Linked DNA regions of Homo sapiens: regions 1 and 2 are each linked to region 3. The links come from fine-mapping of genetic effects on gene expression. A gene starts in region 3. Each other region holds a variant in brackets. All regions are shown on one strand. Distances are from middle to middle. Region 1 has its middle 20 kb from the start of OR10D3. Region 2 overlaps VWA5A (von Willebrand factor A domain containing 5A). Region 3 holds the start of VWA5A (von Willebrand factor A domain containing 5A).

Region 1 (11,316 bases), 49 kb before region 3:
ATGTTCAAAGGTTCAGCATTTCAGTAACTTCATTTGAAGGAAAAGTAATTCTGAGAACTATAATGGGAAACAGAGTCTCATCCAATTTTGCTTCAACCCAACACATTGCATAAGTACAAAATAACATATAAAGTGAGTATTTGAAATTAAAATGAAGGCTTATATAAAAAATTATATTCAAGATTCGATACTGGTTATGGTGGTTGATATTATGTGTCAACTTGACTGGACACTGAATGGCCAAATATTTGGTTAAACATTATTCTGGGTGTGTTTGTGGAGATGTTTTTTATGAGATTGACATTTGAATGAGTAGACTGAGTAAAGCAGATTGCCCTCCCTAACATGGGTGACCCTCATCCAATCAGTTGAAGGCCTGAGTAGAACAAAAACACTAAGAAAGATACAACTTTGGTACTTTGACTGATTGATCTGAAACATGGGACTTCTGCCCTCAGGCTAAAACTTACATCATTGTGTCTCCTGGTGCTCAGGCCTTTGGATTCAGACTGAACTTACACAATCAGCTGTACTGGGCCTCCACTTGCCAACTGCAGGTCTTGGGACTTTTCAGCCTCCATAGTCATGTGAGCCAATTCCTTATCATCTTATTTTATATATTTTTTTTCTATTGGTTCTGTTTGTTTTATGAAGCCTGACTGGCTAACACATTAATTTTGTACTACATGCTAATTTCTGCACTAAGCTCTTTGCATGGATAACATAATTTTATCTTCACAATAACCGTATGAGTTAAGTACTTTTATTGTCCTTGTAAGACATTTGACAAGACTGTACTCAAAGGACCTGTCTAAGGCCACAAAAATGATCAGTGACTTTGTGGAAACTTAAAGTCAGATCTGTCTGACCGCAAAGCCTAGCACATTCTTAAACACTGTCACTAGTATTCTTGAAGAGTTGTTTCCAAAGAAAAAGTTTATAAGTTGAATGCTGATTTTCTTTATTTTTTTATTTTATTTTATCTATTTTAGGTTCAGGGGTACATGTGTAGGTTTGTTATATAGGTACTCTTGCCATGGGGACTTGTTGTACAGATTATTTTGCCACCCAGGTACTAAGCCTAGTACCAGATTGTTGGGGTTCAATCAAGCTGGTGGGAAAAATATTAGAGATAGTTATAGAGATAGACACAAATCTTCTTGGAAGGCTGAGAAGTTTGCATAACTTTGGTAATAGATCTGACTGAAGGCAACCTGGTCCCTTTACCTTTAGCTAAACAAATTAAAGTAGTAACAAAGGAAGGCAGAGCAGTTTACCTAACTACTCTGTGATCTAAGACTAAACTTTGATGTATCCCGGGTGCTTACGTGCTTTCTACTAGGGAAGTCCACAATGTCAATACCCTCTAATGGTGTTGACTCAAGCCTTTGTTAATTAATCTTACTGAATAAATGCGAGTCTCACTAGCTGATCAGGCCGAGTCGCAACTGTTTACAGGACTCAGCAGGGAGTCTGTAAGCAGCTTGGACACACTCAGCTGGACAGGCAAAGCAGAATATCTGTGTGTCAGTGTACTTCATTCATCCGTTGCTGGGTCAGGGGCCTGCAAGGGACAGACCCCGCCACAGCTGGTGCCCCCATATGAGCAGTGCTGCCACATCAGATGGTTACTTTTTCTGATCTTCTCCCTCCTCTGGTCAGCCTCCATCCTCAAAAGGGCCCCAGTGTCTGTTGTTCTCCTCTTTGTGTCCATGAGTTCTTGTCATTTAGCTCCCACTTATAAGTGATGATGTGTGATACTTGGTTTTTTGTTCTTGTGTTAATTTGCTAAAAATAATGGCCTCCAGTTCCACCCATGTTCCTCCACAAGACATGATCTCATTCTTTTTTTATGGCTGCATCACATTACATGGTGTATATGTGCCACATTTTCTTTATCCAATCTGTCACTGATAGGCATTTAGGTTGATTCCATGTCTTTGCTATCATGAATAGTGCTGCAATGAACATTCACAAGCATATGTCTTTACGGTAGAAGGAGCATACCTCAAAATAATAAGAGCCATCTATGACGAACTCACTGCCAACATCATACTGAATGGGCAAAAGCTAGAAGCATTCCCCTTGAAAATCAGCACAAGGCAAGGATGTCCTCTCTCGACATTCCTATTTAACATAGTATTGGAAGCCCTGGCTTGAGCAATCAGGCAAGATAAAGAAATAAAGGGCATCTGACTAGAAAGAGAAGACGTCAAACTATCCCTGTTTGCAGACAACATGATTGTATATCTAGAAAACCTCATAATCTCAGCCCAAAATCTCCTTCAGCTGATAAACAACATCAGCAAAGTTTCAGGATACAAAATCAATGTACAAAAATCATTAGCATTCCTATACATCAACAACGCCCAAGCTGAGAGCCAAATCAGGAACACAACTCCATTTACAACTGCCCCAAAAAGAATAAAATACCTAGGAATATAGCTAACCAGGGAGGGGAAAGAGTTCTAAAACATGAATTACAAAACACTGCTCAAAGAAGTCAGAGATGACACAAACAAAAGGAAAAACATTCCATGCTCATATATAGGAAGAATTAATATCATTAAAATGGCCATATTGCCCAAAGCAATTTACAGATTCAATGCTATTCCTACTAAACTACCAATGACGTCTTCACAGAATTAGAGGAAAACTATTTTAAAATGCATATGGAACCAAAAAAGAGCCTGAATAGCTAAGGCAATCCTTAGCAAAAAGAACACAGCTGGAGGCATCATGTTACCAGACGTGAAACTACATGGGTACAGTAACCAAAACAGCATGGTACTGGTACAGAAAAAGACACATAAACCAATAGAACAGAATAGAGAACCCAGAAATAAAGCCACACACCTAAAACCATCTGATCTTTGACAAAGGTGACAAAAACAAGCAATGGGGAAAGGACTCCGTTTTCAATAAATGATGCTGAGATAACTGGCTACCCATATGCAGAAGATTGAAATTGAATCTCTTCCTTGCACCATATACAAAAATCAACTCAAGATGAATTAAAAATTTAAATGTGAAACCCAAAACTATAAAAACCCTGAAAGACAACCCAGACAATACCATTCTGATCACAGACATGAGCAAAGATTTCATGATAAAGATGTCAAAAGCAATCACAACAAAAGCAAAAACTGACAAATGGGATCTAATTAAACTAAAGAGCTTCTGCACCGCAATATATATATATATATATGTATATATGTGTGTGTGTGTGTGTTTATATATATAGGTATATATATGTGTATATATATATAGGTATATATATGTGTATATATATAGGTATATATATGTGTGTGTGTATATAGGTATATATATGTGTGTGTGTATATAGGTATATATATGTGTATATATAGGTATATGTGTGTGTATATATATATAGGTGTGTGTGTGTGTGTGTGTGTGTGTGTATATATATATATATATATATATATATATATACACACACACACCAACAAAGTAAACAGACAACCTACAGAATGGGAAAGTTTTTTTGCAAACTATTTATCTGACAAAGGTCTAATATCCAACATCTATAAGGAACAAACAAATGTACAAGAAAAAACAAACAACCCCATTAAAAAGTGGACAAAGGACATGAACAGTTTTCAGAAGAAGATATACATGTAATCAACAAGCATACGAAGAACAACTCAATATCAATGATCATTAGAGAAATGCAAATCAAAACCACCATGAGACACCATCTCACACCAGAATGGCTATTATTAAAATGTGAAAAAATAATAGATGCTGGCAAGATTGCTGAGAAAAGGTAATGCTTATACACTGTTGGTGAAAGTATAAATTAGTTAGACCATTGTGGAAAGCAGTGTGATGATTCCTCAAAGAGTTAAAACAGAAGTACCATTTGACCCAGCAATCTCATTACTGGGTGTATACCCAAAGGAATATAAATCATTTTACCATGAACACTGATTTGCTGTTACTGTTTATTTTTATTTTTTTACTTAAAAAAGTTTAAAAAAAAGACGGGAAGGTAACATACTTATCAAATCTTTTTTATATTCAAGATACAATATTAAGTGTTTAAAAAAAAACTAAGTCAATCCTCACCATTAAAGTAGGTTTAAATATTACTATTTTACAAAATTACAATACAACAATTTAAATTAGCTAAGTAACATGTTAAAATCATAAGTTCATACATGTTAAGATGAAATTCAAATCATGTATGTCGGATTCTGTTACCTCTGTCAGCATAAACATTAGTATTCTCAAAGTACAGCATGAGTCTGTTCCTAGAAGACATTTAATAACATCTAATAAATGTATAGACTGAGGTGCTGATCATCAATGAAATGTTTCCACAAACCATTCTTTCATTTATTTATTCAACAAATGAAGGTTTGGACAGTTCTGAACTGTGACTACTCATCTGTCTTATTTTCTTTACCTCTCTGCCTCTAGTTAACTGTTAAAAGTCATGTTGCCAACCTTATTTTGACGTAGTAAGATAATGTTTTATGCCATGATATAAAACTAAAACACAGAAAAAAAAATATGTCTAAGATGGGAAAATTTTAAAGAAAATGACTTGTCAGCTTGGATGTTGAAGGATGAGTAGAAGTTTGTCCAGCAGAGGAATCAGGGAAGGGCATACGAAGAGGGGACATTAAAATGTATTAAGGGCCGGGTGCGGTGGCTCACGCCTGTAATCCCAGCATTTTGGGAGGCCGAGGCGGGCAGATCACGAGGTCAGGAGATCGAGACCATCCTGGCTAACACGGTGAAACCCCATCTCTACTAAA[A/C]ATACAAAAAAGTAGCCAGGCGCGGTGGTGGGCACCTGTAGTCCCAGCTACTCGGGAGGCTGAGGCAGGAGAATGGCGTGAACCCAGGAAGCGGAGGTTGCAGTGAGCTGAGATAGCGCCACTGCAGTCCGGCCTGGGCGAAAGAGCGAGACTCCGTCTCAAAAAAAAAAAAAAAAGAAAGTATTAAGTCACAGAACTGTGAATGAATCTATTTTAAATGTTTTTAGGTCTTCTCTAAAATCTGCACAGAATTAATCATTTCTGCCTTCATTTTGCTTTTCTAAATTTTATATACTTTCATTAAATATTTATCACATATTATTTTAATTATTTCTATATCTGCCTCCCATCCTTAGCTATGAGCTTCATAAGAATAAGACACACAGATCTTTGTAACTCCAGTGTTTAAATATACCACTTCATATTTTTATTCATACATTGATTTGTTCTTTCAATAAACCAGTATCTATTTAATACATATTATGTTAAACACTGAATGGCAAGAAGAAGAGAGATGGGGTGTTGCTGGGGGAACTTATGGCTTTGAGGAAACTAAAGAGATAGGTTTGTTTTGATTATTAATTCTGCAGATAAGGTACTGAATTGTTTTAATTCAACCTATATGCAACAAACAATTATTGAAGATCCAAAAGAAACAGAGTAGTAGTATGTGGTTTGCATTGTGGAAAGATACTACGTTAGGATGTGAATGAATTATGACCATATTTCTTAGGACCTCTGTCCACATCTCCTCAGCCTATTCTAGAAGTTACCTTCAGAGAGTTTCTTTATGTGTTAAGGGATCCTAAATTGTGGTTATTAGAGGCTTGGAAGGGGAAGGGAAAATGTAGGATAAGAAAAGGTTGGTTGATAGATATAAAGTTACAGCTAGATGGGAGGGAGAAGTTCTAGTGTTCTACAGCACAATAGGGTAAATATGGTCAACAATAATTTACGATATGCTTTCAAAAAGCTAGAAGAGAGGATTTTGAAAGTTCACAACACAAAGAAATGATAAATGTTTGAGGTGATGGATATGCTAATTACCCTGATTGGATCATTACACGTTGTGCACACATATTGAAAATCACTCTGTATCCCATAAATGTAAAATTATTGTGTGTCAACTGAAAATAAAAGGGGAGGAAATTGAAATATATATGTAATATTTAAGTGAAAAAAGCCAATTTCAGTTGAATTGTATTAATAAAAGTTCAAAGCTTTGCAAAGAAGGGTTACAAACATAGGTGTTTAGGGACACAGACATAGCAGGTGAAATGCAAATAACATCAAGGGAATAATACACACAAAACTCTAGAGAATGATAACTTCTAGAGAGAAAGAAGGATGTGTGATCAGGCCAAGGTCTACGGAGAACTTCCAAGGCACTAGCATTACTCTTTTTTTTTATACTAGGTAATGGGATGCATGTGTTCATTGTATCATTGTATCACAGTTCCTTATATTTTACATATTTTTCATGAGTATTATTTTCTAAATGTTTAATATTTAATAAAAATATTTTTTAAAAACAGACATCCAACAGGACAATAAAGAATGGCTTTTTGATGGTATCATTATTATAGGTTATTAGCAAAACAGTAATTAAAATAATAATTTTAAACAGAATGTAAAATAAAGGAATGATATATAGTAGGCTCAATTGTTTCTCACCAATGTAGCACTCCAACAATAACAAGTATTATTGCCCCTCTTACCCTAAGTGAACCAATACAACATATAATGTAATAATGCTATTCTCTTAGCTTGACTAGTTATTTTTGCAAAGGTGGAGTCAGTATCCTTGACCAAAAGTAATTGCAAATTTAGTGACCGAAAACATGATTTCTGACTGGTTATTCATTCATTTCAATCAATTTGATTTAGAACAAACCAGCAGGGGACTTGAGAGGGCAGGAAATAAACAGAACAGGTCCCAACACCTGTGAACACTCCTTTGAAAACTCCTCTTCACAATCCTCCCCTGCCATGTCAGCGGCCATCACCTTAGCTTCACTTTTAGTGTCCACATCATAAGTTTTCACTTTGGATGCTCCCATCATAGTTTTGTGCTCTTGGGACTATATGTAAAACAAAACACCTAAATGAAACTCAGAACAGGCATCAGTTTCGTAAAAAAAATTAGAAAAGAGCAAAAAGGAACAGTGACTGGAGAATACAGGAGTGTCTTGCAAAAAAAAAAATTGGGGGAGAACAAAGAAGCCTTTAAAGAAACTAGAATCCACTTGGCATCAGGTCCTGGATGCCCCTCTTAGACCATGCTTGAACCCACTGTCTCAGGAAAGGCTATGCTGGAGCCTGTTCTGCTCAAAACATCCTCTGATCCTCCGCTTCAATATTCTTGTTCTTCTCTGGCCTCCCTGGTCTCGACACTTGATTTTTTTGTCTTGCTTTGCCCCTGTGGGTTAAATATTCTTCTGGATTGTCTACCTGGTTTGAGGTTTTCCCTTTCACAGTTTTTCTCAAGTTCTTCTCACACTACCCCTTAGATTATAGAACACAGAAAAATCTCAGCTCACCCTCACACCCAACTTGGGCCTGCACGCCTCCAGGTTGGGGCTGGCATTCTAGGCTCCTGCTTAGGTGGAAAGAGAACTCAGACACTACCTGGAGACCTAAGAACAGCATCTCTCAGAACGGCTGGGACAAGCAGAGAAGTCAACTTGTTTAAGGAGATAGGGATATAGTTTTTTTATTCAAGACATCAAGTCCAATGAACAAAGAACTGAGCTGGAGAAGAACCCTGAAAACAGAAGGCACACTAAATTTTATTTTTTCCTGCAAAGGCATTTAGTCACAAATGGCAAATAGTTAAGTGATACCTGCCCAAATAATCTCTCACTGCTCTCCCTGCACATATAAAGACTGAGAAGTATGTTGCCTCTCCCTGGAAAATACTCCTCAGCCATTCTTAATACGGAAAAAACAACACAACATTTTCAATCTTCAACACCTTTTCTGTAAGGTCCTTTCTTCAAATGAGGAAAATGCACTCCAGATTTTCTGCTGTATTGTACATCTTGATCATAGCTTAATGATGGGACGTTCTAGTTAGCTGTATGTCTGTTTCTCCAGCAGACTCTGATTTCTGTGCAGCTGGGGTCATATCTTTTTCATTTTGCATTCCTCGCCCTTGCACAGAGTTATTCATCAAACAACTCTGAATGAGTGAAGATTTGAAAAGGAATCAGATCTCATCTTTTATCTTTACAAATTTGTCTGTTTTTACTGACTGTGCAGCTACACCAGTACACTGAGGCATGGGAAGGGATCTTCAGAGTGGACTCAAAGAGGCTTGACAAGGGCTTGCGATTTGGAATAAATTTGAAATAATTTGAGATGTATTTCTAGCTTCCCTTTTAGGCTCTTGTTTACTGGAAAACAAGGGGGAAACAGCACCGAAAGAGGTTTTTAGGAGTTTGCGTAGTGACCAGGCAAACGTTTGTCTCCCTTCCAGGAGCTGTGCAGGCTCACCCACTGGCTGGAGCCATGGATACAGTGTTGCTCATTTGTTCTGGCCGTTTCTTTACTGCTCTCTAATTCTAAGAAGTGCAGGTGGGGAAAAAGCACTAGTCTCTGCTTCTGCCCTCTCCTCTTCCATCATCCTCTTTACAGCCCTGTTAGAGCAAACTTCACAGCAACATATTTCCCCAGTGTGATAGGATTCTCAATGAATTCAGTTATGAAAACAATAGCTCATTTCTCATTATTGGCATATTTCAGTCAAAAAATAAAGAAATGTAAGAGGGGGTCCAAAATCGAACCCTTTTAGTCAACAGAGAAGGCAAAGACACCAAACAATGACATCTTGGACCCAGCATTGCCTCTTCGTTGTACTGAGCAAGACTTTCTTTTATTTTTTTTTCGAGATGGAGTCTCACTCAGTCACTCAGGCTGGAGTGCAGTGGCGTGATCTTGGCTCACTGCAACCACTGTCTCCCGGGTTCAACGGATTCTCCCGTCTCAGCCTCCCGAGTAGCTGGGACTACAGGCACCCGCCATCATGACCAGCTAATTTTTGTATTTTAGTAGAGATGGGGTTTCATCATGTTGGCCAGGCTGGTCTCGAACTCCTGACATCAGGTGATCTACCCACCTTGGCCTCCCAAAGTGCTAGGATTACAGATGTAAGCCACCGTGCCCTGCCCAAAGCCAGCCTTTCTAACGTGGGATCACAGTACAGTTGCCCCTGTTTGGATTCCCCTACCTACCTTCGCATCTCATTCACATGCTGCTTCTTCACACCCAGGGCCTGTTTCCAGGTCTAAGCCTGGCAGGCAGGGTTTGGAAGTGATACAGCACACTAGTATCTCTGCTTTACCCATAAGAGACTGCCTCAAGTCCCAGCCAGATGCCTTTCTCTTTATACAACCTCCTTATGGTTCAGAAATAACAGGATGCTGTTTAAATAAATTGGGATGCACCGCCACCACCACCACCAACAACAACAACAAAAAAACACTTTTTGTTTTTCTTTTCTTTTCTTTTTTTGAGAGAATGATTTTTTAAATTGAGGTAAAATTTACATAACAAAAAATGAACTATTTTAAAGTGAACAGATCAGTGGAATTTTGTACATTCACATTCACGTTGTACATAGCACATTCACAGAGTTGTGCAATCATCACCTCTACCTAGTTCCGAAACATTTTCATCACCCCACAGTCAAACTAAAAAAAAAAAAAAAGGTCAATTTCCTCTGTTTTAATGGATTTACCTGCTCTGGATATTTAACAGGAATGGAATCACACAATATGTGACCTATTGTGTCTGGCTTTTTTTTCCACTGAGGATTAGATTTTCAAGTTCATCCACATTGTAGGAGGCATTCTTCATTCCTTTTTGACTGAATAACATTTTTAACAACTTGTAGATGCATAAAAATGAGGGCTTATCCAATGCAGGCATTTGAGGATATAGTCACTGTAGTCAAGATGAATAAATGTCATGGTGTGAGGGAAATGAAGAGGAGGAGGGGATGTAGGAGGATGAAGAAAATACAGATTGAGAAGCAGAAGCTCCAAGCTGTTCTGCCTACTGAGAAGAGTTTCTCTCAATCTCTCTCTCTCTCTCTCCCTCCCTCTCAAGCAGTATGATTTCCTCAAAAGAGCACAGGCCCCAGAGTCACAAAACCAGCTCTAGAGTCCTCATTCTGCCATTCACAGCTTACATGTCCTTGGACAAGTTACTTTGAGTTTTAGTCTCCACACTGTAAAATGGAAATAATAATACCTGTGCCCTCAATTTCAAAAATATGTGTGACAACTAAATAAAAATGGTTATAAGCTATGAAGTGTGGTTGAAGCGCTAGTTACTTATTTCTCTCTACAACTGCTCAGGAAGGAAGCCCAGCTGATATAAGACCTTCCTTAGTGATAATTTCACCTCCTTATTCCTGAGACTGTAGATTAAGGGGTTCAGCATGGGGGTGACCAGGTTATTCAGAATTTGAACAGTTGCATCCAACCACAGGCTGTGGGTAGGCCTCAGGTAAATGAGGACCACTGGCATGTAAAAAAGCAGGATGGCGGTGAGGTGGGCGCTGCAGGTGGAGAAGGCACGGCGTCGGCCCTCGGCAGAGCAGATCTACAAGATGGAGAAGACGATGCCACTGTAGGAGGTGAGGATGAGAAGGAAACAGCTGAGGGGCATGAGGCCCACACTGATGAACCCCACCATCTCCAGGGCTGAGGTATCTGCACAAGCCAGCTTCAGCATGACTGGGATATCACAGAAATAATAGTCCACCTCATTGGGGACACAGTAAGGCAATTGGAAGGTGAGAGTGGTCAGAAAGGTGGCCTGAATGCAGCCAAAGAATGAGGTCCCCATGGCTAGGATGATACATGCTCTGTGGCTCATGATTATGGTGTAGCGTAGAGGGTGACAAATGGCAACAAAGCGGTCGTAGGCCATCACCGTGTACAGGAAACACTCAGTGCAGCCCAGGAAATGGTAGAAGAAGAGCTGGGATGCACAGCCTGCATAGGAGATGGCTCGGCTGTTCCCTGAAAGATAGCACAGCATCTTAGGGGAACTCACAGAAGGGAAAAATAGGTCAAAAACAGACAGCTTGCACAGGAAGAAGTACATGGGCGTGTGAAGCCGAGCAGAGGAGACAATAGCCAGCAAGATGAGCAGGTTCCCCATAAGGGTGAAGATGTAGAAGGACAAAAACAGGACCAACAGAATAGTCTCCAGACCCTCCGTGTGAGGGATGCCCAGCAGGATGAATTCGGACACCACCGAGAAATTCCTCATGGCTGTGAAAACATCCAACCTTGAAAAGGTACCCAAGACACCAAAGTCTAAACACCAATGTCAAGTTCTCAAGCTTTTTGCTGATGAGTGCTTTGGCTATGTTTTTAACAAGGAACAACCTGCCTTCTTATGAAAGGCAAGAGAGAGATCCATGTAAAAAAAAATCAGATAATAAGGAAATGCCTATTTTAGAGTCAGTCTATTCGACTCATGGAAGGGATGCTTTGTAAAGGCAGATTCTTGTCTTCTA
Region 2 (11,316 bases), 32 kb before region 3:
GGGTGGTAGTGTCATTCATATATTTATTTACACCTGAACATTATTATAAGATGATTATTGTATAAATATTTGGTACAAAATGGAAAATATATAGCTGTGTATTAATTGTATCTGTAACATTCATTTTAATGGTTTTATCTATTAGTGATTACAGATTCTCCCAAAATCAGATAATTCAGCTAATTTATTAATAAAGTATTATAATCTTTGTTCTTAATATTCAAAACAAGTAGCTATTTCACATTTTTTATTTTTAAAAGCAAAAAATAATAATACTTTCAATCATAGAGTCTCTGTATGCAGTTGAAGTTGTTACTAACTTAAAATAGATGGTTATAAATACAAGCTATTTTTATGAAAGCCTTAAGATAACCACAAAGAAAAGTCTCAAAACATAAAGAGAAAATAATCAAAGCAAATTGCTACCAAAAAAAAATCAAATACAGGAAGAAAGCAAGAGAAGAACAAGCCAACTACAAAACAAACAGAAATCAATTAAAATGGCAGTGATAAGTCCTCACTTATCAATAGTTATTTTAAATGTAAATGAAATAAATTCTCCAATCAAAAGACAGAGTGATCATTTTTATTTGTCTATTGTACCTCAGTAAAGCAGAAAACATGCTTGTAAGCTTAAGCGTCTTTACCCTAAAAATCCACTGAATGTTAAACTGTTAATTACAGTACCTCAAAAAAGAATTAAAGTGAGTGAATGGATTTCACAGTACATAAACTACACTTCACTAAGCTGTTTTTTTTTTAAAGTGAAATAAAGACTAAAAAAGGCATGGATTCTAAAGTCTATATAGAGCTTGATCGCTGACAAAGTATATATATATACTTTTAAATATATATATATTTAAAAGTAAGCCTGACTATATTTCTATACAATTCCACTTTCAGCTTTATGACTATGCTTATTATTATTTAAGAAGAATTGCCTAACATTATACCCTCATCCCTACCTGAGACTCTGTCTATTTATTGACCCTCACTGCATTACTGAATTCTTCCCCACACCTCACCTCATTTTCATATCTCACCATTAAGGATGTCTGTTTGTTACATCACTTAGTAATAAAAACTGGTTTATGTGCAAAACAAACAAACCCAAACTTTTAACTTTGGATAGACCACAATAGAAAAAAGAATGTTTTCTACCTCTGAAATTCCAAAAAGTACAGTTCTGTAAATGAAGGGTCAGTGAAGTGTGGAGATTTGGTAGATCAGACTACATGGAGGCCAGTTTCAACTATAACATGCAAAGAGTTTGGAAACCATCACTCTCACCATTACCACAAGAAAAAGCTGAACAAACATGATATGGTTTGGATTTGTGTCCCCACCCAAATCTCAGGTCGAATTGTAATCCCAGTGTGGGAGGTAGGCCTGGTGGGAGGTGATTGGATGATGGGGGTGGATTTCCCCATTTGGTGCTGTTCTTGCGACAGAGTTCTCACGAGTCCTGGTTGTTTAAAAGTGGGTAGCACCTCCTTCCTCTTTCTCGTCTTCCTGCTTTGGCCACATGAAGACACCAGCTGCTTTGCCTTCCATCATGATTCTAAGTTTCCCGAGGCCTCCCCAAAAGCTGCTATGCTTCTGGTATAGCCTGCCAAACTGTGAACCAATTAAACCTTTTATTTATAAATTACCCAGTCTCAGGTTTTCTTTTTATAGCAATGCAAGAATGGAATAATACAAAACTCATTTATCTGTACCCTTTAGAAACTGAGAACACAGGTAAATAGTCATTCTGAAATCCTGAGAGACAGGTGACTTCAGAGTCACTGCTGACATTTACAAACCTGGAAGAGAATCTTTGGGATGGAATATAGACAAATAGAAACTTCCTAAACTTAAATGTAAAGATAAAAACAAAAACCAAATAAAAAACAAACACACATTCACATGGCTATATAAAGAATCTCTGGAATGGAAGATAGACCAATAGAAACTTCCTAAACTTAAATGTAAAGATATAAACAAAAACAAAATAAAAAACAAACACATAGGAAAAACAGAGCAGAACATTCAAAACTTACAGGATAATTTCAAACAGTGTAACATGCAATTGAAATACAAGAAAAAACTAAGCAGAAAAATAGTTGAAGTTATAGCAAAAATTTTCCAAAATTAATGAAAAGCACAAAATTACAGATTCAGAATGTTCAAATAACACCAAAAGGATAAATACAAAAGGCCCTACATTTACAAATATAATATTCAAACTGCAGAAAACCAAAGACAAAGAGAAAATCCCAAAAGTCTGCGGGGCAGGAGGGGGAGAACACTTTACCTATAGAGGAAAAAGAATAACAGCATATTTCTTGCCAAAAACTATTCATGCTAAAAGAGATTGAAGTAAAATATTTAAAGTGTTAAAAGACAAGACGACTGGACGCAGTGGCTCATGCCTGTAATCCTAGCACTTTGGGAGGCCAAGGTAGGTGGATCACAAGGTCAGGAGATCGAGATCATTCTGGCTAACACAGTGAAACCCCGTCTCTACTAAAAATAAAAAAAATTAGCCAGGTGTGGTGGCATGTGCCTGTAGTCCCAGCTACTCGGGAGGCTGAGGCAGGAGAATCACTTGAACCCAGGAGGTGGAAGTTGCAGTGAGCCGAGATCACGCCATTGCACTCCAGCCTGGGTGACAGAGCGAGAATCTGTCTCAAAAAAAAATAGACACACACACACACACATACACACACACACACGGAGCTATAAGTTCAGCACAATTATGCTTCAAAAGTGAAGAAGAAATAAGGACTTTCCCAGACAAAAAGAAAAACTAAGGGAATCCATTGCCCACAGATCTGTTCTACAAGAAGTTTTAAGACAAATTCTTCCGGAAGAAGAAAAAGGATACAGGTAAGAAACTCAGATCTATGCAAAGAAAGGAAATGTCAGGAAGAAATAAATAAAAGTGAAATATGTATTTTCATTTTCTTATTAATCGATCTGAAAGATAACTGTTTAAAGTTATGATAGTAACAATTAGGTAGTTAAAATATAGACATAAGTGACATGAATGGCAGCAATGTCATAGTGGATGGGAAGGAATTAGGAATACTCTGTTATAAGGTAACTGCACTACATGTAAAGTGATATAGTGTAACTTGAAGGTGGGCTTAAATTAGTGATAAATGCATATTGCAAACCCCAGAGCTAAAACTAAAAAAATTCTTAAGAAATATGATGGATATATTGAGTGGAGATAAAATGAAATCACACAAAATGCCTGGTTAAAGTGAGAAAAGGCAAAAATGAAAAAATAAAAGAAAAAAATGCAATAAATAGTAAACAGTTGACAAACATGGTAGATATTAACCTAATTTTATCAATAATTACTCTAAATATAGATGATATGGGTCGATAATTTAAAAGTAGTGATTGCCAGAGTGGATTAAAAGCAAACAAAAACAAATAAATAAGACCCAACCACATGTTGTTTCCAAAAATCCACTTTAAATAAAAAGACTCATATAGGCTAAAAGTGAAGGGATGGAGAAAGATACACCCTGCCAAAACCAATCAGCAGAAAGCTGCAGTAGTTACGTAAATTTCAGACAAAGCCAACTTCAGAACAACAACAACAAAAATCAGGAATAAAGTTGAGCATTAAATAATGATAAAAGAGTCAATTTTCCAAGGATGTATGATAATTTTAAATGTATATGCACTTAGGAGAATATCAAAATATATGAGGTAAAAACTGATAAAATACACAGTTCACTGCATGGGTTTTTTTTTTTGGTTTTCTCCTGGTCAATCAGATACTCCAGAAAGCAGATGGACTGTTTTTAAGGAAGGAATTGCTGTGAGTTGGGAGAGGAAGAGCAGATGCTCAGTGACCCTGAGTGGGACTGTGTTAGAGTTGGGGAAGACGGAGGATGGATTTCATTAGTAAGTCTGTGTAGAACAGAGAACCCTCCAGGGGAGCTCCTGGCCTGTTTGAGTGGAAGAATCTTGAGGGAATGGTATCTGCCACTTTTCCTGTGGCCAAGTCTGCTGCTGTGGGGGAAACAAGCACTAGATAAAGGCAACTAATGGGAGATGAGAACAGCTTCTCTCCTGGGCTCCTTGCCTGGACCACCAGTTTCTGAAATTACAGATGGTTCTTTATACTTTCCCAAAACATAAAGCATCAGACTTGAAATGGGGTTTCAACAAATGTGCCAAAATGCCATTTGCTGATTATGAAGACTGACACTTGTTTAGATTCGAGGAATTTACAGTTGGCACAACATTTCACTGTGCAGGAGCCCAAATGGAAAAATAAAACCACGCCACTTTAAAACTGTAGTTGTCTTATTTTAAAGAGGTCAAAAGACAGGTTGATAATTTTTTTTTTGTTTCTTTTAGTTCGTTTAGTTTTTGTTTTAGAACGCCCCGCACTAAGTCCACAAGCCCCAGTCTGGAAGTTGAAGGGTGAGAAAAAAGGAGGTAAACGATAAGCGCTCCGCATAATAAATGTAAAGTCACAGCATTGTGTGCACAGAGGTTAACTATACAAGTTTCACGGTCCTTAAGAAACTATTTTCTGAAATTACATAGGTAGGGCCTATCTAGATGGCAGGCTTGGATATAAGCCTATTTCATGAAAATATTAAGCCTTTACTTTTCAAACTTCAATGTGCATGCATGATACCTGGGAGCCTTGTTAAATAAAGTAGTTCCTGGTATCGATTAAAATTCTGCATTTCTAAAAAGCTGCATTTCTAACAACCCTGTTCCGCAGATCACATTCAGCATAAACAAACTTGGAAGAAAGACTGAGAGATTAGAGTCCACTATGCAAGTCACACAAGTCTTCCTAATACCAGGTAACTCAACAACTTAAAGAAACTCAGGCCTAGTCCACCCACTTTCTGAGTGAAAAGTCACCGATGTTCCTCTAGGAATTCTGAGTGGAACTCGAAAGTGTTAATAAAGTTCTAGTTTAATCCCTTAGTTTTACAGATGAGGATATTAAGTGCCTGAGGGTGAAATCATTTGCCCATCATCACATAACTATTTAAGGGTATGGTCAGGATTCTACAGTGGTATTCTTATTAGTATCCTTTACTTGCTTCATATAAAAGAAGTCAGCCTACAACAGAAGATAGAGGGTCAGGATACCATGGGAACAGTGGAGGCATCAGAAAAGCTGGAACAGAAAACAAGGGACAATAAAACCAATGTAAGTTCAATAAATGAATCTATGGAGGAGTAGACCTCTTGCTAAGCTTTTTTTCCCTACTAAGTTTTATTTCACTAACTTCAGGTCAAATTTCCACAACTGTGTTCCGGTCAATTTACTATCCTAGTTTGGCTTCCCAAAGTGGCAGTACCAAAATATTGTGGGGTAGGGAGACGAGACCACTTTAAGAACCACTGCATTTACTCATCAAAGGGTAGAAATAGTCATTTTAATATTGATACAAGTTATTTTAAGGGACAGCATATCAAATAGGGTCATTTCCACCAGGATAGGGTATATGAGACACAAGGGTCAGGAACGATTACGGGGAGCTCCTTTCTTCCTAATGCGGTAAGTGCTCCAGGTTCAGGTCCCAGGCAAAGCTCCCATTAAGCCCACCCTTCCCTTTACTGCACTAGATCAGGGCCTGACTTAGAGGACACATAGGTTCAGGGTAGGACTAAGGATTGCATTATAGACTTCTTAAGGTGTTTCATGATTAAAGAGGAACATCTCTCTCCAACAGTTATAGTTCAACCCAAGTCTTTCAGGCAGTGGAAGAAAAGACATGTAGGTTGTACAGGCTAGCAAAGCCCAAGAAGAATGAATCAGGAAGGTCCCCAACAGTGTCACCTCTCACAGTGGACCCCTGCAGTCTCTGTCTTTGTGATCTTGACATTACATTGATCCAGATGTTGGCTTTCAACTTCCCTCTAACTCCTCCTACGCAAGCTTACCAGTATGGCCCTGATAAGTATATAAGATAGAAAGTGAACAGACAAAGATAATGCAGAAAATTCTCTAATTCAAGCATTCTCTAACATAAATGCTGCAATCTTTAGTCTGTAGTTCATGTCACCTGTTTTTCATGTTGTTTCCCTGGAAACCCTGGGAGGAACATTACTGCCTATGAATGTTTTGAACTCCCTCAAGAAAGGGAATAGGTTCTGGGACCACTGTCACTTTTCTGAGGGCATATGTTGGGAAAAGAAAGATCATATCCAAAGTGAACCTGGAGCAGAGAAGCGAAGTGGAGTAAGCATCCTTTACTTTTATGGCAAAAAATAAAGAGTTATAA[T/A]ACACAAGAACACATCATCACAGCAAAAGTGATACTAGAGGAAATGACAGTAGCAAATTAAAGGCACTTCTTTTTCTGGATGGTATCTTCAAAAGGCAAAGATAGCAGGATCCACAGATGACTTCAGGAAAGTAATAGCAGCTTTCACAACCGAAGGCATGGTGGAGCCTGTGGTGAGGAAAAACAAGAAGCAGGGATGAAGGATTGCAATTAGAGGCTCCTCCAAACCTCCCAGATCATCTACCCTGAGTTGTGCTTTTATCTGTCCTCAATATCCCTGCTTTTTCTTTTCTTGCTACCCAGATTCTCCTTGAATCTTCTCTGGCCCCAGATACACTCAGCTGCAGTGAGATAACAAACAGCCAGGAGAACACGCACCAAGTCTAGTCTTCTACTCAGCTTGGTACTGAGACAGTAAGGAGAATCAATGCCACTTGTCCTTCTCACAGTTCACACTCCCCATTTGTGTCCCTCTCCCTCCCTACTCACCCACCTACCTTGTCCCCAATTTAATATTTCACCCTTGTCCTCCCAAGAAAAGAACTAGCAGAAAGATTAGTAAAGATCTGAAGCAGGATGGTGGAGGCAGGTGACAATGGGACTCTCTTGTGGTCACCTTCCGCCAGGCCAGGGAAGGGGAAGGAGACAGGCCTTAGGATTGTGCTCCTACCTGCATGGGCACGCATCCAGGCCACGGCCTTCCTTTCCAGAAGCTCCCATTCACACTTCAAGTCCTTACCATTGCTGTGCAGCCAGATCACGGCCAGGATGGTGGCCCAGCCTGAGGAATCCACAAGCTGCACAGTAGATAGAGAGCTCCAGTTGGCACAGGAAGTCCCTCAAAAGGATGCAAAAAGCTTCACTCCCTCCTCACTTAGCATCCTTCTAAATGTCACTAGATGGAGTTACCTGGTCTCTCTTTACCTCCAGATACTACTTGCAAGGCATAATGCCAGGCCTTAAACCTCAGGGCAGCAATCCATTGAGTCTCGAAATAGAAAATCCTAAGTTTTAAATCCAGTGTAACCACCAGGACGGTTCTGGAAACCCCTAAGACAAGGCCAGCTCTAGTAAGAGAAACACAGGCAAAACTGCTTTATAGTTTATAAAGAACCTTCATAAGTTTTTTTTAATTGTAACCCTTATACCCCCCCACCAAAGAAATCATGAAAAAATATCAATAAACATTTTTAAGAAAGAAAACTGATTTCATATAGAAGTATTAACAAAATGATTTGCTCAAACTTAGCTGTCTAGCAAACGACAGAAGTGAGACTAAAGGCCAAATATTCTGACTCTAGTTATATTCTCTTATTTCTCAATAGAAAATCTCAGCCATGCAGCAGAAAATTGTCTCCCATGAGTTTTCGCTCACTGCTCCCAGCTTCAGCTTTCAGAGTCAGGAGATCAAGGGAAATTCCTATTTTATATCATGACTTTTAAAACTTGGAAATGGCTATCATGTCCTCTCTGAGTGGTCTTATTTCAGATTAGAATTCTCAATTCCTCCATTTCTTCCTTAAGAGGACTGCTTATGTCAAAGCAGTAAGCATCCCCACGCTTGTTCTCCTAGTCTAAAAACAAACAGCGTAATGATTTTAAAAATATATCTCCTTAAATGGTCTATCTGGAGGTAAATGTACTTATAGAATTCTACAATCACAGCCCATTTCAGGTAACCCTGTTGTCCTCCATTTCTTAGTTAAATATTCTGATTCACACAGTTGTAGTCATCTAAAACCTCTGATTTTCATGTGCAAATGCTCTCTTCTCTACCTGTAGAGTTGGGAATTTGGAACCCAAAACAGTACTTAGCTTTTATTCCTACTATGTTGTTTTTCTTTTTTTTTAATGAAAAGTTGCAACTCATTGTTCAGAGGTTTTTTGGGATCCTGATTCTTTTGACTGATAGTTTATCTCCCAGTTTTGTCATCTACAAATAGGAAAGTCTTGGTCTTTATCTTCATCTAAATCTTCATTGAAACTGTGGACCTCCAGAGAATTCAGAGCCTGGTGGGTCTAAAAATCTGTTTCATGTTTGAAATCAATTCATCATTCAGCGCCATAGGTTTTCAACTAATTTGTACTTGGTCCATGTTCTCATCATTAAAAAAAAAATCAAATTCCTTACTGAAATTCAGATATACCAGGTCTGTTGGTTCACTTGATTCATTGGCCTGGTTACCATTCCAAAGAAGGAAATGTCAGTCTGAAGTTTTTTGTTCCCAGTGCATCTAATAATCCCTGTATCCTCTTCCAAGTGTGTATGAATTATCATCTTAATTACTTTTCTAGAACAGCATTTTCCAATAAAAATATAATGCTAGAAACATATGTAATTTTAAATTTTCTGGTAGCCAAATTTTAAAAAGTAAAAGAGGTATAATTATTTTACTGATATATTTTATTTAACCCAATCTATTAAAAAGTCATCATTTTAACATGCAATCAATATAAAAATAATTATTGATGAAATGTTTTATTCCTTTTTATAAAAGTCTTTGCAATTAGTATGTATTTCCCACCATAGCACACCTCTATTGAATTAAAAATTCAGTTCCTCATTTGTATTAGCCACGTTTCAAAGGCACAATAGCCACATGTGACTAGTGGATACTGTATTGGACAGTGGAATTGCAGAATATCTGAAATTTATTTGATCTCCTTCCACATTTTGAAAGTTTAGAATGATATTTGTCCTTCAGGCTTTTTGCACCTGTCTCATGCCTAACAACTTCTCAATGAGCGTTAGAAGATTTTGTAAGTTACCTTGAAATTCTGGAATGCAATTTATCCTTATCAGCATATTTAAATACATCTGAAACAACTAGGTGGTTCCTAGTAACAACACTTTACCTATCCTGACTTCAGTTAACTTTTGCCAATGTCTGGACCACTTTCATCGGTATGAAGAGGAGCAATAATGAGGTTATTATTGGGGGTTCTCAAGACAGATACTCTTAGAACTGAATCTGGCTCTGCCACTGATGGGCTAGGTAAACTCAGACACATTTTTAGACCTCCCTGAACTTCAGTTTCTTCATCTATAAACAGCAACACAAATGGGATCTACCTTATTAAATTAATGTGTGAAATAAATAAGCTCATGAATATTAACTGCTTAGCACAGTGCTTGGCACAGAGTAATTGCTCACTAAGTATTAGTTACATAACCAAGATGATTGGCAGGGAATACGATTAAAGTGGAAGAGGATTTTTGCTTTCCCTTTGTCATCCACCAGCAAAAAAAACCCCATCAATTCCTACTAGCTTCCCCATTAATCCCTTGATCTTTCTGCTCTAACATGACTGGAAAAACCTTCAGCCTCTATTTATTACAAATTAATTTAGTCTATGACCCCCTATATTTTCCTTCCTCAGGTAGGTCCTGAATCACCTCAATTCTCAATGATGACCTCTCTCTCAAAAACATACATACTCCTTTTTCCATTGAATCTTACCTCGGCAGGCTGTGCAGCCATTATTTCTTCCAAACTCATACCTAGGATCTTGGCTAGATCTTCATTCAGATCCCAGGAACCATTTGCATTTTGGTGGTAAATCAGCTGCACAAGGTGATTCTCTCCAAAGCCTTTGAGGAGAAAGAAAAGAGAAGAATGAGAAATTGTGGAGCTATCGGCACCTCAGCACACTTGAATTTAGGGCTGCTAAATTCAGAGACAGGCCATAGCAAGAATGCAATAGAAAGAAAGTCATCAGACAACATCCAGAAGATCGGTCTTCAAACCCTACTTGTGAAAGGATGACCAGTGGAACAGGGGCTCACAGATGGTGGCAGCAGGGCTCTGCTGGGGGGCGAGGGCAGCCCGCAGGCAAGCTGTGTGAGCTGAGATGGCCAAGGGGGTTTGTTCGACTAGGGGTCACCCTAGACTCCACTGGGATAGCAGGTTTCAAGGTCCTATATGATATCCTAATGAACCTAGCTAGGCTGACCCTGGGAAACATAGGGGCGGAACAAATCTGACCTTCTGCCCAGTGCTTTTCAAACAGATGAACTCCTGGGTAAAGAAAGCCACAGGCAGCAGAACATTGAAGGCTAGTTTGTCAGTCCCTATAGATTGCAGGGGTGAACCGAGGCCTGCCTCATCTGCATGGTAAGTTTCCAGGCTGGTTCTGTGGGTGGAGGAATGAATCTTTTCCAATGCATGGGGGGTCCCTTCGAGAAACATGCATCTCTTGTCATAGCTGTAACTACAAGCTTTTAGCTTGCCTAGTCCTGTATATGTGACAGAAAAACATTGTTGAGAAAATGTTCCTATAAAGGTACTCACCTGGACTGTGCTGGTCCTTGTGACTTATCAACCCACAGAGACTGTAATCGTCCATCTGGAATGTCTTGGCCTTATAACACATAAGTTCCCCTCTGGGCTGAGATGCAGAAGGAGGACGGTCAGAGTGTAAGGCCTTTCGAAAACCTGAAAAAATCCAAACATTAAGACAGTGGCACTCCCTGCTCTCTGCAGTGGGCAAAGGACTGTGACAATTCAAGATACATACCCCCCCATCCACACTGGCTTCAGTCACCACCCTTACTGTGCTATTTTTCTCTCATATGCCCACCTCCTGCGCAAACCCTCACCCTCTGAGCTCTCCTTCTACTGTGTCCTCTGGAACCCCTGGCACATGCTAAACAATTTTTCCTGCATCTTTAGTTTTACTACAGGAGGCTTCTGCCAGCTAAGTCTCAACTTAAAACTGAATTTATCCTCCCAAAAAACTATTCTCCCTCCATCACTCTCAAATGGTTGTTGCTCAATGTACCACACTTCAAGTAGGGAGGTAGGGTTGGCAACCTCTTCAGTCCCTGATGCTGCATCCAGATCATTAAATGCGGTTTACCTTCCACATGTCGTCACTATTGTCTACTTCCAATCTCTTTGTTATTTCCGATCATTCATTAAAGTATCTGAAAACTAGACCATAGACTTCCACTCCATTAAAAGGCCTACCATCATCTTGAGATTTCATCACCCATGTAGATAGCCTATAAAATACCCTAATGCAAAGCTTCTTCAACTTCATCAAATCCAATGAC
Region 3 (11,316 bases):
TGGTGGAAGCTGGGAGCCCCTTGAATGACCTTAGCATGGAGAGCTTGCCCTGAGGAAGAGTGGTTGAACAAGTGAGGGAAAACTAAAAAGTTCAATTTGTGAGCTCAAGTATGAAGCTACTTTGGAAGCAAACATTAACAATGAGAGAGTAGGGTACTCTGTAGAAAAACAACTACAGGGAATTTTCTTGACAACAGCTATAATTGTAAAAACAAGAGCCTAAGCCAAGCCGTCCCACTTTGAATATGATTGTCACCAAGGACATGTCCATTCCACCATGTGTAAATGCTTCAGAAGTGGCAATAGCACTCCAGTCCTGTGTCACCGAAACTCAGAAGCATGGCAGCCCAGGAAGGCCCCAAGAACACAGCAAACTGACATGGGTTACACCAATTTAAATTCCAAGAAAGAGTGCATGTACATTAAGGAAAATTTCAAAAGTAATAAACATTAAAAGAAACTAAGAAACTAAAGTTATTAAGAAGCTAAACTTAGTCTTAGAAATTAAGAAGCTAGGGCAAAACAAAAAAGTTTTGGAGATGAAGGGTGGTGATGGTTGTACAAGGTGAATGTCCTGAAGACCACAGAACTGTACACTTAAAAACAGTTAAAATGGTCAATTTTGTTACATATATTATATCTCGAAAAGAGAAAAAAACTTCAGTTGAGACTGCATGTAGCTGTGATGAATCAATCAATAGAAATTATGTATTAGATAAAAAAGAAATTAAGAACTTTCTTAATTAAGAATTAAACTTAGTCAATCTAATCACAATGACTACTTGCATTCTTCCTGTGTTTTAAAATGTTTTTCCTAAAGCACAGAGTATTTTATAGTGGTAATCTGTCTATAACTTACTTTTCTTTTACGTAACATTCTTTGGAGGTCATTTGTCCAATTACTTCAATCTGTCAATATACACTATTTTAGTAGCTGCATATTAACTCATGAAGTATACCTAGCATAGCAAATTTAGCCAATAAGAGACATTTTGATTGCTTACTAATACTCGATATTATTAAAATGGTGGGGGACATCTCAGTGCATATTTTTACTTATATATGGATTTACTTCCTTAGGCAAGATTTCTAAAAGTGAAATTACCAAAGTTAACATTGATTTAACACATATGGCCAAATTTATCCTCGAAAGGTTAGTTCACTTTTTAGCACACTCACAACCTTAAGAAAACCTTTTAAAGCATGAGGCATCAGATTTGGAAATCGTTGATAATTTGAAAGGTGAAAATGTCACATGATTATTTGGATGTCTGTCAAGACTGATCATTGCCACATGTTTATAAACTGGCCATGTTTTCTCTTGTAAATTATCTGTTCCTGGCTTTTGCCCAATTATCTACTGATCTACTTAAATTTGCCTACAAGACATATCACATGACAGTCATTAAACCTAACCATTTTTGCATGACATAGTGTAAACTATTTCAGTGTTTCACATGTATTAACCACCCCTGGAGGGAAGGAAAGAAAAGAGAGTAATTCGACAGTAATTCCAAGACAGGGAGTTGCCCCTTAGGGGATGACTACAAAGGAAGAAAGAAAATACCTGGCTTCATGTTAGGCATCCCCATCTCCAAAACCACGCTGGGGGTATGCACCTCATTGTAGTAAATCAGGAGTTCCACGTCCCGATCAAACTTGTGTCCAGCAGCCAGGGAAACCTGAGTGGAGGACAGGTAAAGGAGCCACATTAGAATCATAACTTCTTGCTTCTTGGGGCTGAGGTTAGGGCGCAGTCCTCCTCCATAAGACAGCATGACTAGGAACAGAGGTGAGGCTGGAGAGAAGGCTCTGGAGATTAAATGACGATATGCAAGGAGCATGTGGGACCCCCTCTGGGTTACCACTTGGGAAGAACTGGTTGGGGACCAAGTCAAGACTCAAGCAACAGAGGTACTGACAATAGCAGTATTCTCTCATTAACTACCTGAGCAGAAGTCTTGTCCTCTCCTAGGTACTCGGTAGGACTCAAGGGGCAGTTGGATTGGACCTTCTCAATGCCATGCTGGGAATCTATGGTGGCGACCATGCTGAGTGTGTAGGGCAGGTCCTCCACAGGGACTATAGGAGTCTTCACATTAAGGCAACTGTCCTTAGACGACCCTATAAAAGATGACCTTAGTTCTGTTTTCCTTGCCAACACTTTTTATGACACTCTCAACCTTAAGAAAATTTCCCCATTTATGTCACCCACCACTAGAATTCAAAGGGGAGAGGTACTCACCAGAGAACTGGTATCTAGGATTCAGGACAGCTGGGAGCACAAAGCGCAGAGCCCCATCTGCTTCCAGAGGCAGCTCCTGCACATACTTCAGGGTGACTGCCGCCTTCGACCCAGGTTGGAGGTTACCCACATTGCAAGAGAAGACATCCCTGGAGCTGCTGTCCCCCTCCAATAAGAAGGCCTGGTGGCCCTGGGAGATGGCTTTCTCATAGTTGGTGCGGGCCTGAGAAGCACAGGGCGAGGGATGGGAAAGAAAGGGAACATCCAAGGTGACATGGCTGAAAAAGAGACGAGCAGTGCAGAGCGACTGTGTGATTGGTCTTGTCTAATCACAGCTATACTCTGAATGCCTCTGATTGATTTCTTTCCCCAAATGATTTTAGAAAAATGGCAGTTAGAAAAGAGTGGAAGAAAGAGCTTTCAACATCAGCATGTTTTGTGAAGGTACATTTAGTAGAGATCATAAAGAGTATGCATTAAGGAAATAAGAAGGGAGGAGGTAATGTAATAAGAAGGGAGGAGGTAATCTCTACTACCTTCATCTTGTCTTGTAATTCTGCTACAATTTTCTTCCCATCCACCAAGGCCTCAAAGCTGTAAACAGCAGAGTCTTCATCCATGGGGAACACAAAGAAGGCCTCCAAAGGAACTTTCTCCTCATTCTCGTAGTTCAAAGTTGCAGACACACCAGCCACAAACTCGTAAATGTTCACGCTCACAGAGATACTCTTCAGCGGCACTGGAGATAGACCAGAGTTCAAGTTCATCAAGCTTCAATAGATTGCCTCCTTGTAGATCAAGCCTTGTGATAGGTGCCAAAGATTCAATGGCAAGTAAGAGTCACAAATTAGGCTTACCTGGCTCCCGGTGGAGGGTGAGTAGGCCACAGAAGTGCACCATGGTGATGCAAGATTTCTGCAGAAAAGACATATCACAAACAGAGGACATGTTGGAAGTTATCTGTTCAAACACCAGTACTTTATGTGCCTTTCTCTGGCATAAGAATACATTCAAAGGGTTAATGTTGGAGTTAGGAAGTTGGAACCTTTAAAAAAAAGGAGACAAAGATTTCAGTCATAAGGGTCCTTTTAAATGGCAGTCCCAGGTGGGGAAGGTGTAAGATTCACTGGTATCTACTAAACAGGAAATCTCTGAAACACCCTGAGGCTGGTTCAAATACCAATTCCACTTTCTCAAAAGTGTATTTAATTCACCACTCCTTGGGCATATGGAGTAGGTGTCACTAATCCCTCTGAGCCTCAGTATTTTCTTTCCAAAATGAGTAGTATAATATCCACACATCGTATGTGAATTAATACATGTGAAGTCCCTACAATAGCACATGGGCCATAGGAGGCATTTAATCAATGATGACAGACATCACTATTGTCCCTATTATTGTTGTTACTGTTAATCAATAAACCTCTGCCACCATTCACTTTGGATCATGGCATTCAGAGACGCGCTGCATGTGAGAAGCTGTGTGATTCAAGATGGACTCCTGCCACAGGCCATTTACCTTGTGGCTTTTCTTTTGGGACCCAAAATTAAAAGATACGAGTATATTTGTTTGTATCCATCCAAGATATTCTAATATATTTAAATATTATATAGGCACATAGCCTACATTTGCACCCCCACTAAACAGCACCAATAAATCAGGCTTTTCATTCCATATCTGTTTTTATTTTGAGAAATTGGATAAAAACTGAGTGTGGCAAAATGACTCACAATTCGACAGCAACGCAGAGGACAGTGGCAGGTGTGAGGAGAGGAGAGGATGCTCAGAAAAGGGCTTCTACGCAGACCTCTGACCTGGGCAAGTTCTCTGGTAGAACAGGCTGGGCTGGGGGAGGGAAGAATTTCTAATAACACATTAAGCAGAGAGCCTAAAGCAGGAGACTCACACAGGAGTAAAACAGCTGAAAGAGAAGCTCTCAGGCTGGGCAATACTCACCAAGGTGGCTAGAGTAAAAGAGAGAGAGACGCAAAGGGCACCCCTACAAGGAAATAGCCTTCGCTTCCTGATTCTAAGCTCAGAACAAATCCTCCGTTGAGGAAAACTTGCTATTCTGCACCCTTGCCCCCACTCTTCCCAGTACAAACAAAATTAGTTTGGGTCAGAATTAGTTCTGTCTCTCAGGATGGCACTTCAGAAAGGCAACTTGCAAGGCTTAGGTAGAGACTGGCCACCAAGCTGAAAGCCATGAATCTGAGGCAGCTGGGAGAATACAAGGCTTCCGGCCTAGCCAGGTAGCTGCTTCAGGAATGCAGAGTCCCAGCACCAGCCGCTCAGCAGCTAGGAGGGTGGGAGGGGAGCTGGGTGGCACCACCGGCCACACACACCCCTGCGGCCTGTGGCAGGGGTGAAGTGGAGAACTCGGAACCAGACAAGGAGGAGATTTGGGGTAAGAAGTGGGGCTTGGATAAAATCAGAGATTGATTTAACCTTTCCATTCAGTCCTAGATTTCCAATGTCCACGTATTTACAGAAGAGACTGCGTCGGTCTCTTACATTTCTATAGAGAAGGGCTTAGGGGCTGCAACTGATTGGAGTAGATGAGGCTTACAGCCTCATTTCCTCAGCTTACACTATCCTGAAACTGAGAAAACATCAATTGTCTATATCAAAGAAAGAAAGCGGGAAAAAAAGTAAAGTAAAAGAGAAGGAAAGTAGGAAGAAGGGCCTTGAGATTAGGAGATGGCTAAATCCCTCCTTCAACCTCCAAAAGATTCCCCTAAACTGCCAAACTTGCAGGAACCTTCCTGGGGATCATACATCAGGATGAAATCCTCCACCCATGGGGCGTGCAATTCAAGGAGCCCCTACAAATTTGGGGACTGGGGAAAGGGAGCTAGAATGTGGAGCTCTCAGTCTTCCAGAGCAGGGGTTGGATCCAGGCCCTGCACCGGTAGCTTGGTCCCCTACCTTCCTCTCCTGCAGCCCGGAGCGCTCTGAGTCACAGCGGAGTGAAAACAGCTGCAGTCATAATTTCCGGAAAGAACCGCCCCCTTCTAGGGACCGGTTATAAAGTAGCGACTACAAGACTAAGGGATCAACGGAAAATTATTGAACAAATAATCGAACTTTCGCTTGTTTGTATCAAAGGAAAAGTCTTCGACTTTGGAACGTTTGGTTTTTTTCTTTGCTCTTTGCTAAGGAACAATCAGAGAACAGGCAAAGAGGGCAAGGGAAAATGCTGCAACAGGAACAACAACAATGACATTAAAAACTGCATATTTTTGTAAAAGCTTAATTGCCAAAGGCTTACTGTGTCCTGGGCCCTGTTAATCAAAGCTTTATGGAGATTATATCATTGACACCTTATCTCTAATGTGAGTCATTTTCCCCCAAGTTGCCCCTCCCCTACAGCAGGGGGAAAGATAAGGAGATAGTGCAAGGCACACACATCTGCTCTAATGAGAGAAGCTCTAGCCAGGGAAGCCCAAGTCTTCCTGTCATGGGTCGCTTATGGGATCCTGAAACCAAATGTTTGGGTTAACGATGTAAGTAACTGAGAATGTCTATGCTCATTTACCTGGCTAAAGGACATTAGAAGCGATCAAGGTCCCCATGGCTTCTCTATTTCAAAACAACCTATTAAATCTGAGACTTAAAGTGTCATATTGCTGTCGAGAATCTATAGGATAAAGAATACATGATACATATGGAAAACACAGCTTGATTTTGGTCTCTGTGATGTATTTTTTGTGGATATACTTGTTATATACTGGTTATATACTTGTTTTTGTGAGATATTTGTTATATACAAATAACTCTCCCCAAGTTATTTGTTCTCTCATCTGAAACGGGGATAATGACAAACCTCCACTGATTGTTTTTGTGAGATCTAATGAATCTTAGTGGCTATAAAAGTTTTATATATATATATATATATATATATATACACACACACACACACACACACACACATTTATATACTTTATATATATACACCCACATACACATTTATATACATGGATGTGCATGCATAGATGTATATATGTGTATATATGTACACCCATGCATGTATATACAGTTACATGCATGTAATATATGCATATATAGTAAAGCATAATATAAGCACAAATTCTATTTTATCAGTACTAGGCCCTACAACCATGTTTTTTACATGTACTGAACTAATTATGAGAGGAAATTATCCTTTTCTCTGGAGAGAAATCATGTCTGGTATTGTTCCTTGTGACTGTGCCTTCTTTCCATTGGCCGAAACATCTGAGCAACAAAAGGGAGGAGCTGGAAACGTGGGCAGAGTTCATCATCTGATCCTGCTGGGCTTAGAGCTTAGCACTAAAAGTCTGCCACAGACCAGGCATGCAGCGTGGTTAGAGGGCACTGAATCAGGAAACACACAGAAGTTGCTGGTTGTTGAAAAAACAACTATGTGAAAATTCCCATAACCTAGCACAATATACACAATTAAACCGATATAGATGAGATATCTTCACTTAAAAGTCTGTCTTAGTGTTGCCAGGCATTCCTCAAGGTTGATTCTCACCTTCTTTTTTATACTAACAGGAACCCCAAGTTTCACAATGTCTATGACCATTCAGAATAAAAACATTGCCTAGCCTCCCTTAAAGCTGGTGTGGCCTTGTAACTAAGCTCTGGCCCATAGGGTACAAGAAATAAGTGCAACACCATGTCATGCCCTTTCAAAGAAAAGAGGATGGCTTCCCATTCACTTTACCCTCTTCCTGCTCATTGGTGTGAATGCAGGTAACTGAACCAGCTTGAACCATAAAGACTAGATCATAAAGCCTGGAGCATTTCCCCTAAAAATGGAGAAGCAACAAGACAGAAAGATCCTGAGCCCCTGAGACTCTCATAGAGCAAGCCACTGTATCATCACAGAATTTTACAGGATAAAGTAACAAATTTCTCCATGGTTTATAACAGCTCTTTGGGTCCTTATCTTACCCTAATACATTTGATTATGATTAATTAAAAAGTAGACTTTTAAGGAAACTATCTTCTTCAGAATATGAAAAGCACATTTGCTTATAATGGAAATAGAAATCTGCATATTATGAGAACAATATCCAATTTATTTTAGCGCCCACCACTGTAACACATGTGCCCTGAATTATGCCGGTGTGTGTTGATTATGTTGATCATAGTTTGCTACTTATTTTTCTTCAGTTCTTCTGAGAGCCATTTCCCTTCCTGAAATAAAAAGGCTGTTTGTCATAGAGTGCTTAGCATTGGTTCAGAACAGGCTTTCAATAAGTCGTTTCGGTCATTGTCTCATTTCTGTTATTCTCTTTCTTCAATGTTCTCTATCATCATGGAGTTTTAAGTGTCCAGTTCTGCTTGTTCTCTCTCCTCTGATGTTTCCATAGCAATTCACCTAAAACTTCCTGCCGTTTTTATCATACTTGAGCCCTTTATGTGCTCTTAAAATTGTAAACCTTTAAGAAAGTAAGTTTTTAAAAGTCATGAAGTTATTTGTTTAATGAATAAATACATACAAATCCCAGTGGTTGTATATACGCTTAGGTCTTGTGATTGCAATCCACTATAGATACTGGAGAATAGATTTCAAAAGCTCAAATAACAAATGCTCAGACGTGCACAAATCTTATAAGCATTTATTACATATTGGTGATAACAATTATAATTAATAGGTATAATTTTCATATGATCACCGATAACTTGGAAATTAAGTGTTTGAAGATATCACAGACAACCTGGGCTCAGCAGAAACTTATCATGAATGAATGGATAGATAGAGTGAATTTAAAAATATGCATAGTACTATATATTGAGTTCCTATTTGAAACCAGTGCTAAGTGTTTTACATAGTATGTCAAACTACATTAATTACAGACAGGAATAATGTCTGTGATCACAAATCACTTAGTAGTTTGTCAGAAATTTCTTGGATGAGAGTGACCATTGCTTAAAAGTAACAATTTTCATCGATTACAAGCAAATATGCTCCTGACAAACCCAAAGCCTAGACAAATGCCAAAGGGGATAGGCAGGATGCAGCTCAAGTGTCTAAAAATCTATGAGGGCTTGTAAAGAACATATATTGCTCATCCAGAGGTTCGGAAAATTGTAGAGAAAACAAGAAACCAGGTTCTAATTTATCAGGATCTACCTCGGTCTGTCACATAATTAAGTCTATGAGCTTTAGATTCAGTCTGGGGCTTGAGTCCTACCTCTAGTTCTTAATAGTTGTATAATTGTGAGAAAGCAATTTAACTACTCCGAGTCCATGTCATCATTTGTAGAATGAACTGATAATACCTAGTCTATATGTATGTTGTAATCATTAAATGAAATAAGTTTTAAGGCATATGTCACAAGTTGGCATTCTCTAAATGTTAGTTCCACTTTCCTTTTGTTGGGTTGGCCAGCGGAATTTTGAGAATCTGGAAAACTATATGCCACTTAGATTTCCACATAGAAAGGCTACTTTCATGAAAAGGATTCTGAGATTTCTTATACTTTTTCTAAATCTGGCAACATTATTTTAGTTTTGGTTTGGTAGTTTTTTCTGCTCACCATCTTTTGGTTTTAATTACTCATCGTTAAAACAAACAAAACAAAACCACCATTGTTTTTAAAAAACCCTCATCTTAAAATTGGGAAGGAAAAGAGGAAAAGAGCAAGTGGGGGGAAAAGCAAAAGGAAGGATTCTAACAATGAAATTAAAGAGGTGAGAAATCTTTGTTTATCCAATTTCAAGAAATATAAATCTCATGGGTACACAGTATGTCAGAAAGTTTACAAGCATTATCTAAACACTCAAAATCACCCTGTGAAATACTATCATAACTGCATTTTACACAACACAAAGTGAAGGCTCAAAGAGCACCAGGTACCTGCTCAAGGACATATAGCTAATGAGAAACAAACTTGTTCTTCGCACTCAGAACCTTCTGGCTCCAAAGTGAGTATTCTATTCATTATGTTATAATTTCTTCCACAGCCATAAGAGGTATAGGGATGGGTAGAAACTGGAAAAATGACAGATTTGGTAGGCCAAATCCCTGAAGTCTGCACAGAACAAAAGAGACTGATGAGATATCTACCCAAACCAGAAAAATAGGGTGGTCAGGAGGGATCCACAGCTCTTTGATTCCCAGTTCCTTTAAAGGGTATCGTGATTACTGCATCCTGTTTGCTAACTCCTAAACTCTTCCAATATCTGCCATTTAATTGATCCCTGTGCTCAGAGGGCTCCTGCTCCCTGTCTCAGAATAGATCATAGATGAGGCTCCAGGGGACTATGAGACCATTTAAAATTCCACAAAGGTAGGGGATATTTTCACTTTCGCTAACTCTGAGGAAGTCATCCTAGGCCATAGGGCAGCCATCAGATGTATAATATCTTCTGTATGGTTCTGAATGAAAAAGAAAAAGCCGTTTGGGGTCTGCAACTGGAGAACTCAAACCCAACTCCTTGGCACGCTGAGAAATGAGATGTTTGGGATGGAGAGCCCCATACTCTATAGAAGAAACAGAAGACAAAAGAAGGGTTAAAAACATTTGTGTTCCTTAATTGAGCTGGTCGTGATCCTTGTGACTATGTAAGTATTCAGAGCTTCTCCTCAACTTCCTTAATTTTTACTTGTTTTCCTCACTCCAAAGACCTGAGTAGCAAGAATTGTTAGAAGAAATCACCGTGAAGTGCTTCTTTCTCATTCTATATGGCAGCCAGAGTCTTTTCCTCCACTCACCTTCTCATACAGCATTTAGGAATGTATTTCTTGATTCCTTTCCTTTTGTTGTTACTAATGAATTCAGCATCCATCACATTCCAAGCCCCACAGAGTTGCTTAGAATTAAAATTTAGTTGGTTATATTCCTTGACATGGAGAAAATAAATAATCTTTAGCAGACAAATATATATATAACAGACATTCTTCTGGTTCTCTTCCTAATTCTCTGAAGGATATGTACATTTCTTCTTAAATGACTCCCTTTCCTTCTCCTTTTCCTAAAATGTAGTATTTCTCAATGTTTGGCCTCCAGTACTATTTTGTCTTGACTACACCAATCTCTCCTAGTGATATCATTCAGGCTTAAGACATTGACTATCATTTTCATTATTATTATATGTACTATGGGGAGTCCCATGCTAAAGAGTTTTCCAATCTTCTTTAGCATGGGACTCCCCATAGTAAATATAATAATAATGAATATTACATATTCATTATTTATATATATATTATATGGACTCCCCACAGTAAATATAATAATAATGAACTATTATATAACATCTTATTAGGTATCAAACTCTTTCATGAACATCACCATATTTAATCTTTACAGCGATTCTGTAAGATAAATATCTCAGTTAATAGTAACATGAGTGGGTGCTTAGTATAAACCAAGCACAATTATAAGAACATTCCACATATTCAAGAAGCACAATTATAGTGTAGATATCAAAATACAGGTGGGTGAAACACAAAGAACTGTCCTATTTTACCTGTATTGTCCCGCCTTAATTATTAATCGTGCTCCCCTTTGCTCTTAAAGTGTCCTAGTTTGAATGATAATTTTTAGCTGCCTAGTTAAGGTTTAGGCTACTGGTGCAAGGAATACTTTCTGCTTCTGTAATGATGGGAAGCCGAGGCTCAGAGAATATAAATTACTGGCCCATAGTCACACCACCAAGTAGCAGAACTTGAGCTTGAATCTTTAAACCTCTGATTTAAGTTCTTTTTAATATTCTATGATGTCTCTTTTCTAGACAAATGTTTGGATTTGAATAGAATCTTCTAGGAAAGCTATATTTATTTCTATTATGGTTGCAACCCTAAATTACTATTTAAATTATCATTCTCAGTTCCTCATTTCTTTGATGGCTGTGAACCTGTCTGGTTGTGGGTCTAGAAATGGTGAGGAACTTAAATATTTAAAATTTTAAAAAATAATATTTGAAGTTATAAGGACAGAAATTTCTTAAAGTCATGGTTAATAAAATCTCAACCTGAAATGGTATCGTTTTCATGAGCTATTTCTCATAGATCTCCTTTTCTTTGAATTTTTATCTTACAGAAAGTCATGTTTATATTGTACTGCTTTCGAG

What was found.
Region 1: its variant is fine-mapped to the expression of VWA5A in blood mononuclear cells (TOPMed, PIP 0.98).
Region 2: its variant is fine-mapped to the expression of VWA5A in whole blood (TOPMed, PIP 0.92).

What each region holds. Positions count from the first base shown.
Region 1 is chr11:124,158,171-124,169,486 of GRCh38, reverse strand. It overlaps the pseudogene OR10D1P. Among named protein-coding and RNA genes, the nearest start is that of OR10D3, 20 kb to the left of the region's middle. The variant A/C (reference allele first, on the strand shown) is at 4,785.
Region 2 is chr11:124,140,978-124,152,293 of GRCh38, reverse strand. It overlaps VWA5A (von Willebrand factor A domain containing 5A), which reads right to left. Exons shown (of 19, transcript NM_001130142.2): 16 at 10,553-10,696; 17 at 9,722-9,852; 18 at 6,931-7,057; 19 at 4,573-6,428. The coding sequence ends at 6,349. Among named protein-coding and RNA genes, the nearest start is that of VWA5A, 31 kb to the right of the region's middle. The variant T/A (reference allele first, on the strand shown) is at 6,261.
Region 3 is chr11:124,109,341-124,120,656 of GRCh38, reverse strand. It overlaps VWA5A (von Willebrand factor A domain containing 5A), which reads right to left and starts at 5,207. Exons shown (of 19, transcript NM_001130142.2): 1 at 5,175-5,207; 2 at 3,977-4,091; 3 at 3,103-3,160; 4 at 2,782-2,984; 5 at 2,246-2,468; 6 at 1,949-2,124; 7 at 1,568-1,682. The coding sequence starts at 3,145.